Homo sapiens: one gene and its partner. The protein of the gene in region 2 purifies or fractionates together with the protein of the main gene of each other region. This does not show direct contact. Each region holds a gene or a part of one and is shown on either strand. Other genes may lie near its edges.

Region 1 (2,256 bases), on a different chromosome or scaffold from region 2:
TAAAAATAATTTAAGCACAATATTAATAACAAAGCAACTTTTTTTCAAGGAAAACTAGTAGGTCATCTTGCCCAAGATTTTTCCAAAGGTATTAAATATATTTTCAATAACAGTACATACAAATACACATACACAAATATACCACACAGACACATGTGCACATACATGCACACACACACACACACACACACACACACACACACATATATATATACAGCTCAAGTATTTTTTTGGTGTGCATTCTAGCTAATCCACATAGCTAAAGTGAAAAAACACTGAAAAGATCAATGCCTGAGTAACCTTAAATTTGAACAAACTATGCATTGGATGTGAATTTTTGGAGGCATGCTAAGATTTCCCTTCTCAATTTCATTAGCTACTACCCAGTGTTCTGTGGTTCTTATCCTTAAAAAAATCAAAGTGTGCCTTTCAGATCTGCTCACGGTGTGGTGATGATTATTATGGTGGCGTCAATTTGGGAACACTTGCCCTCTCTTGCTCCTACTGCACCTTATGGATGGGAAAGGGAATGATTTTAAAGGTAAAGCACTCAGGCCCTGATTACATCTGGCTTATTCTTTGCTTCAAGGCAAGGATCTCTCTCTCGATTTCACAGGGGAGGTCGGCATTGACTTGATCCTCCAGATACTTCTCGATGTCTTCCACCTCCTTCTCCCAGAATTCCTTGGAGATGCTGAAAAGCTCCATCATGTTGATGTGCCCCAGGCCTTTCAGGTTCAGGGCATCCTCCTTGGGGATGTAGCCTATGGGCGTGAGCTTGGTGCTGGCTTTTCCATCGATCCGGTTGAACATCCACTCCAGCACCCTGGAGTTCTCTCCAAAGCCTGGCCAGAGGAATTTGCCTTCCTTGTCCTTCCGGAACCAGTTGACATGGAAGATCTTGGGCAGTTTGGCTGCTGGGTGCTGGGCCATGCTAAGCCAGTGGGCCAGGTATTTGCCGAAGTTGTAGCCAAAGAAGGGCCGCATGGCAAAGGGGTCATGCATGATGATTTTGCCTGTTAAACAGAGAGGGAGTTCATTAGTAAATGAGGCTCTCCTAGGCAAGACTGACGCCATTGATTGTTGACATTAGCATGCTTTGTTCTCCTCTCTCTCTTTCTCTCTCTCTCTCTCCCCACACACAGACACAGAAAAGGAGAGAGACATAAGAGTGACGAAGAGTGCTCTAATCCCACTTCTCTGTGGTTTCAGATCAGGACTTTGATTTACCTTTATGTTCTGCAGCCGCTGTGGCCTCTGATCTCATGGCCGCCCCCACAAAGACTCCATGTTGCCAGCTGAGAGCTTCATAGACTAGAGGGACACCTTTAGCAGGAAAAAAAAAGAGAAATGTTCATCAGAGGCTTTGAAATTCAGACTCCACAACCAGTGGTGTTATTCACAACACGGAAAGACACGGCAAGACAATAACTTTGTAATCGAGCTAGTTTTGCGTTCACCAAGCTAAATTGCAGAAAACTGCTAACTCAAAGTTACATGACTGAGGCCACAAAGTAAAAAGTAAAATTTGATCAAGCTACAATAGATCAGGGATTCAGAAAGGTTCCAGGTGACCAGAAGGGTTGGTTCTACATTTGAACTTGCCAATTATTCTGGATCTTTGGGAAGGAAGCTCAAGAAAGGAAGCCCCTGGGCACCCTCTGACAAGGTCATGGAAAAGGAGAGATTTCACAGATGCCCTTCGGTACCCAGCACACCCATGTTCCCAGCCTAAATGAAGGAGAGCCTCACCAGCAGGTCTACGGCCTCCAAAGATAATGCCTTCAATGGGAACACCTTCCGGAGACTCCCAGGCAGCATCAATGATGGGGCACTGGCTGGCAGGGGTGCAGAACCTCGAGTTGGGGTGGGCACAAGGTTCCCCTATAAGACAGAGAAAGGCTCGTGAGTGCCTGGCTCAAACAGGCAGTCCCTGCAGCCCGGCACACCAAGGCCTCTGGCAGGGACACACCATCCTCTGAGCTCCACTCCTTATTCTTCCAGGACGTGATGGTGACACCTGAAGCTAGCGGCTCATCAATGCCTTCCCAGTAAACGCCCCCGTCGCTGGTCTCGGCCACATTGGTAAAGATTGTGTTCTTCTGGATGGTCTTGATGGCATTGGGGTTGGTCTTCACTGAAGTCCCAGGAGCGACACCGAAAAAGCCATTTTCTGGGTTGATGGCCCTTAAATGACCTGGAGAGTTTTAAACCAGAGAAGCAGTAGTGAGTGCCAGGCAAAGCAGAACATATACT
Region 2 (3,500 bases):
TATTACCACTTGTGAAAACCGAGGTTTGGAGAGATGAGTTACCTTGTCCAATATCTTATAGCCATTAAACTGCAGAGCTGGGTTTGAAGCAAGGCCTGGCTGTCTTCAAAGTCTGTGCCCTTTCCACCTCAGCAGGATGCTGGTCCTTGTAGGGAAGGATTGGCACTGACATCTCAAGAACTTTGGCCACCGTAACAGAGCCTGTGTCCCTTCCTCACAGGTGTGTGCTGAAGATGGATCACCACTGCCGTATCCTTTTGCTTTCTCTTCTGCCTGAGGCCTTCTTTAGCTCCAGAGCACTGTACAGGGTTAATGGCCACCATTTTAGCATCACCGTGCAGAGAACACTGGAGTTGAGGAGTTGTGGGGCCTGACCATCTCCTGGGAGAGCAGGAAGCTCACACTCTAGGACGGATCTTCTTGGAGCAGGGAATCTTTTAACACCTCTTTCTTTTCTAGACTCTCATGCTAACAGCTATTGGATGGAAAGAGATGTTTGGGCTTCTGTGGTTGTTTACTGTGTACGCCAGATAGAACCGTGGGTCTCCAGCTGCTGTTCCACACAGATGTTTGGCTAACTCCAGCTAGGCTGAAATATTGGCAGATTCATTTTACTGAAGGATTTCAGTTTCCGTGACTTCTTGGTGGGACCTGAATGCTCTGAAAAGCTTTGAGCATTTTCACCTCAACCTTGGGTGTGAACAGTCTTGTATTTTCTTGCCTTTGGAAAGTAGTTCTTAGTGACTGGAAGCCTGAGGCTTGGGTGATATTGTCAGGAACCAGGGATGAACCTGAGGGGCCTGGACACCGCCTGAAATTGTGTTTGATTCTAGTCCTTAATCATTTCCCAACCAGCCTGGCTAAACAATTGTGTGGGCCACTATAACCATCGGTACTTCTTCTCTTTCTGCTTTTTCATGACTCTGGGCTGTGTCTACTGCAGCTATGGAAGTTGGGACCTTTTCCGGGAGGCTTATGCTGCCATTGAGGTGAGCTCATCAGGAACAGGGCAGCTCAGTAGTGCAGAACTTCGGGATGTAGAACCTGTCCCTAAGGAATGGGGCTGGTAGCACCCCATCCTAGAGGCCTGAGAGTATAACCAGCACTGTTTTCCGTCCCCTTAGAAAATGAAACAGCTCGACAAGAACAAACTACAGGCGGTTGCCAACCAGGTGGGCTGTCCCCACCCCACTGCCTCCTGCTGCTCAGGCCTGGGGGTATAGAGTTGCTAAGGCATCTGGGGCCGACCTGCCCATGTAGTTGTAGAGGCTGCCGAGAGGCCACTCTAGACCAGATCAGGAGTGTTCAGGCAGGCTGGCTGTGGTGGGTAGACTAAGTGGCCTACAGGCAAGCTGGAAGTCCCTGGTATGTGACAGTTTTGGCTATCTATCCCGTCATCACCTCTCTTTGGGTCGAGCAAGCAATCTGCCTTGGTGATGGCCTGAGCAGCAAGGAGTCTATGTTAGTCTGTGTAATGGGGTTCCAGGGGACAGAGATCAGGCAGAGCCAGTCTGATCATCCCTTGCTCCTGGTCCATCTGCATCTGGATCATCCCTGCCCCCCCAGTACCTTTTAGGACTCCCTAATCTGCTGAGCCCATCTTGATTGTATTTCTGCTGCCCTTTCACAGTCCCTAGTGGAGCTCACAGTCCCTAGTGGTTTTCCCCACTCCAGTCAGTCCATTCTGGGTATGGTCTGGTCTCCTCTCTTGGGGATGCAGCTGTGCAGTGAAGGAGTTCTGGCTGGGGATTGGAGTGGCTTCCCCTGGAGCCCCATTTGTGTTGTCACTCTACAGGCCCAGGGTCAGCTTCTCCTGTGCTTCACCATCCTGTCCAGACCCTGCTCTGCTGCCCAGTGTTTGTCCATGTGGTGATGCCGCTGGGCTTGGTCCACCCATCTTGGCTGCTACCCTAACTCCTCTGTGGCTTTACCCTGTTTTCTCTGCCTGGATTTGGATCATTTCCTGCCTATAGGTGCTGGGGGCAGTTGCTGGAGACCCACAGAGCAAATGAGCCAGCTTTGCTGTTTTCTTTTTCTAGACTTATCACCAGACCCCACCACCCACCTTCTCCTTTCGAGAAAGGATGACTCACAAGAGTCTTGTCTACCTCTGGTTCCTGTGCAGGTATTTGTTTTTGATAGTTTTAAGGGAGGGGAAGCTTCAGAAAAAAAGTTTTTTAGGTGCCCACACGCAGGCAGAAACCCATTCCTAAGTGAACTGCCACTGCTCTAGTCTAACTTAGGTTGGCAGAGAGCCAGCACTTTCTTCAGCATTCAGGGCAGGGAGCACTGAGGATATTGGCATTGCTTATTACTAAGCACACAGATACAAGTATGTGCTTGATATGTAACCAAAGTAAGTTAAACTCCTTATTTAATCTTAGCACCTGTCTAAAGGCTGGGTGACTGTATTTATAGATGAGGAAAACTGAAAATTGGGGGCCAAGGGGCAGTGAAGTGAAGTGACTTGTTCTATGATACACAGCTAGTAGGAATATTAGCACTGGAATTTGAATTTCATGCCATCCCATTCCAACCCTGGGTGTTTACTACTTCCCACTATCTCCCAAGCATGGGTATTTTAGGAAATATAGAACATTTTCTCAGCAATACAGACTTATTTCTCTATTCTCCTTTCCACATACTCTCTTTTCCCTTAACAACAACAGAGATGGAGTCTTGCTATGTTGCCCAGGCTAGACTCAAATGATCTTCCTATCTCAGTCTCCTGAGTTGCTGGGACTACTAGGCATGAGCTACCATGCCTGGCTTCACATCATTTATTCTTAGGCCACTTTGATGCTTTTTCATTGATGCTCTTTATAGACATAGTGAAGTAAAAGTTTATCTAGGATATATGGTGGGAGGTGAGGAAGACTTAGGTAGAGAGGTTCCAAACCAGTTGTTACTGCTTAGCTCAATTTCAGACATACTTCCTCCAGCCCTCTCTAAACTACCCACCAGTCTTCGCCCCTCTTTTCTTAGTTCTGTGGCACTTGCCCTGGGTGCCCTAACTGTATGGCATGCTGTTCTCATCAGTCGAGGTGAGACTAGCATCGAAAGGCACATCAACAAGAAGGAGAGACGTCGGCTACAGGCCAAGGGCAGAGTGAGTAGGGTTGAAGGCTCGGGGTGGGTAGGTGGGTAACTGAACTTGCTCTCCTGTAAACAGAGGCCATGGGCAGGGCTGACTAGGGCAAGCATTGTAAAAGGCCAGAACTACTCTATCTGAGCTTTAGCTTAGCCAATTTAGTCTGAAAAATTAGAAGTTCAAAGAAACATGTTTTTCTTGGCTCCAGGTATTTAGGAATCCTTACAACTACGGCTGCTTGGACAACTGGAAGGTATTCCTGGGTGTGGATACAGGAAGGTAATGTAAGACACACAGACTAATGCTGTCCAACAGAACACTGTGATGAGAAAGATGTTCTATGCCTGTGAGCACTTGGAATATGGCTAGTGGCTACTGTGTTAGCACAGTTCTAGACTCTAGGAATAGA

What was found. Proteins that work in one complex are often made in the same cells at the same time.
Region 1: the proteins of ZDHHC16 (region 2) and PCK1 purify together in Homo sapiens (affinity purification with mass spectrometry; one large-scale study listed by BioGRID and IntAct). This does not show direct contact.

Annotation. Positions count from the first base shown.
Region 1 is NC_000020.11:57,564,110-57,566,365, reverse strand, and holds part of PCK1 (phosphoenolpyruvate carboxykinase, cytosolic [GTP]), read right to left. Parts: intron 2,198-2,256; coding exon 1,973-2,197; intron 1,885-1,972; coding exon 1,753-1,884; intron 1,327-1,752; coding exon 1,231-1,326; intron 1,017-1,230; coding exon 562-1,016; 3' UTR 1-561. UniProt on the Homo sapiens protein: Cytosolic phosphoenolpyruvate carboxykinase that catalyzes the reversible decarboxylation and phosphorylation of oxaloacetate (OAA) and acts as the rate-limiting enzyme in gluconeogenesis.
Region 2 is NC_000010.11:97,452,675-97,456,174, forward strand, and holds part of ZDHHC16 (palmitoyltransferase ZDHHC16), read left to right. Parts: intron 1-220; coding exon 221-249; intron 250-855; coding exon 856-989; intron 990-1,124; coding exon 1,125-1,172; intron 1,173-2,039; coding exon 2,040-2,125; intron 2,126-2,927; coding exon of another isoform or gene 2,928-2,985; coding exon 2,986-3,109; intron 3,110-3,299; coding exon 3,300-3,370; intron 3,371-3,500. UniProt on the Homo sapiens protein: Palmitoyl acyltransferase that mediates palmitoylation of proteins such as PLN and ZDHHC6.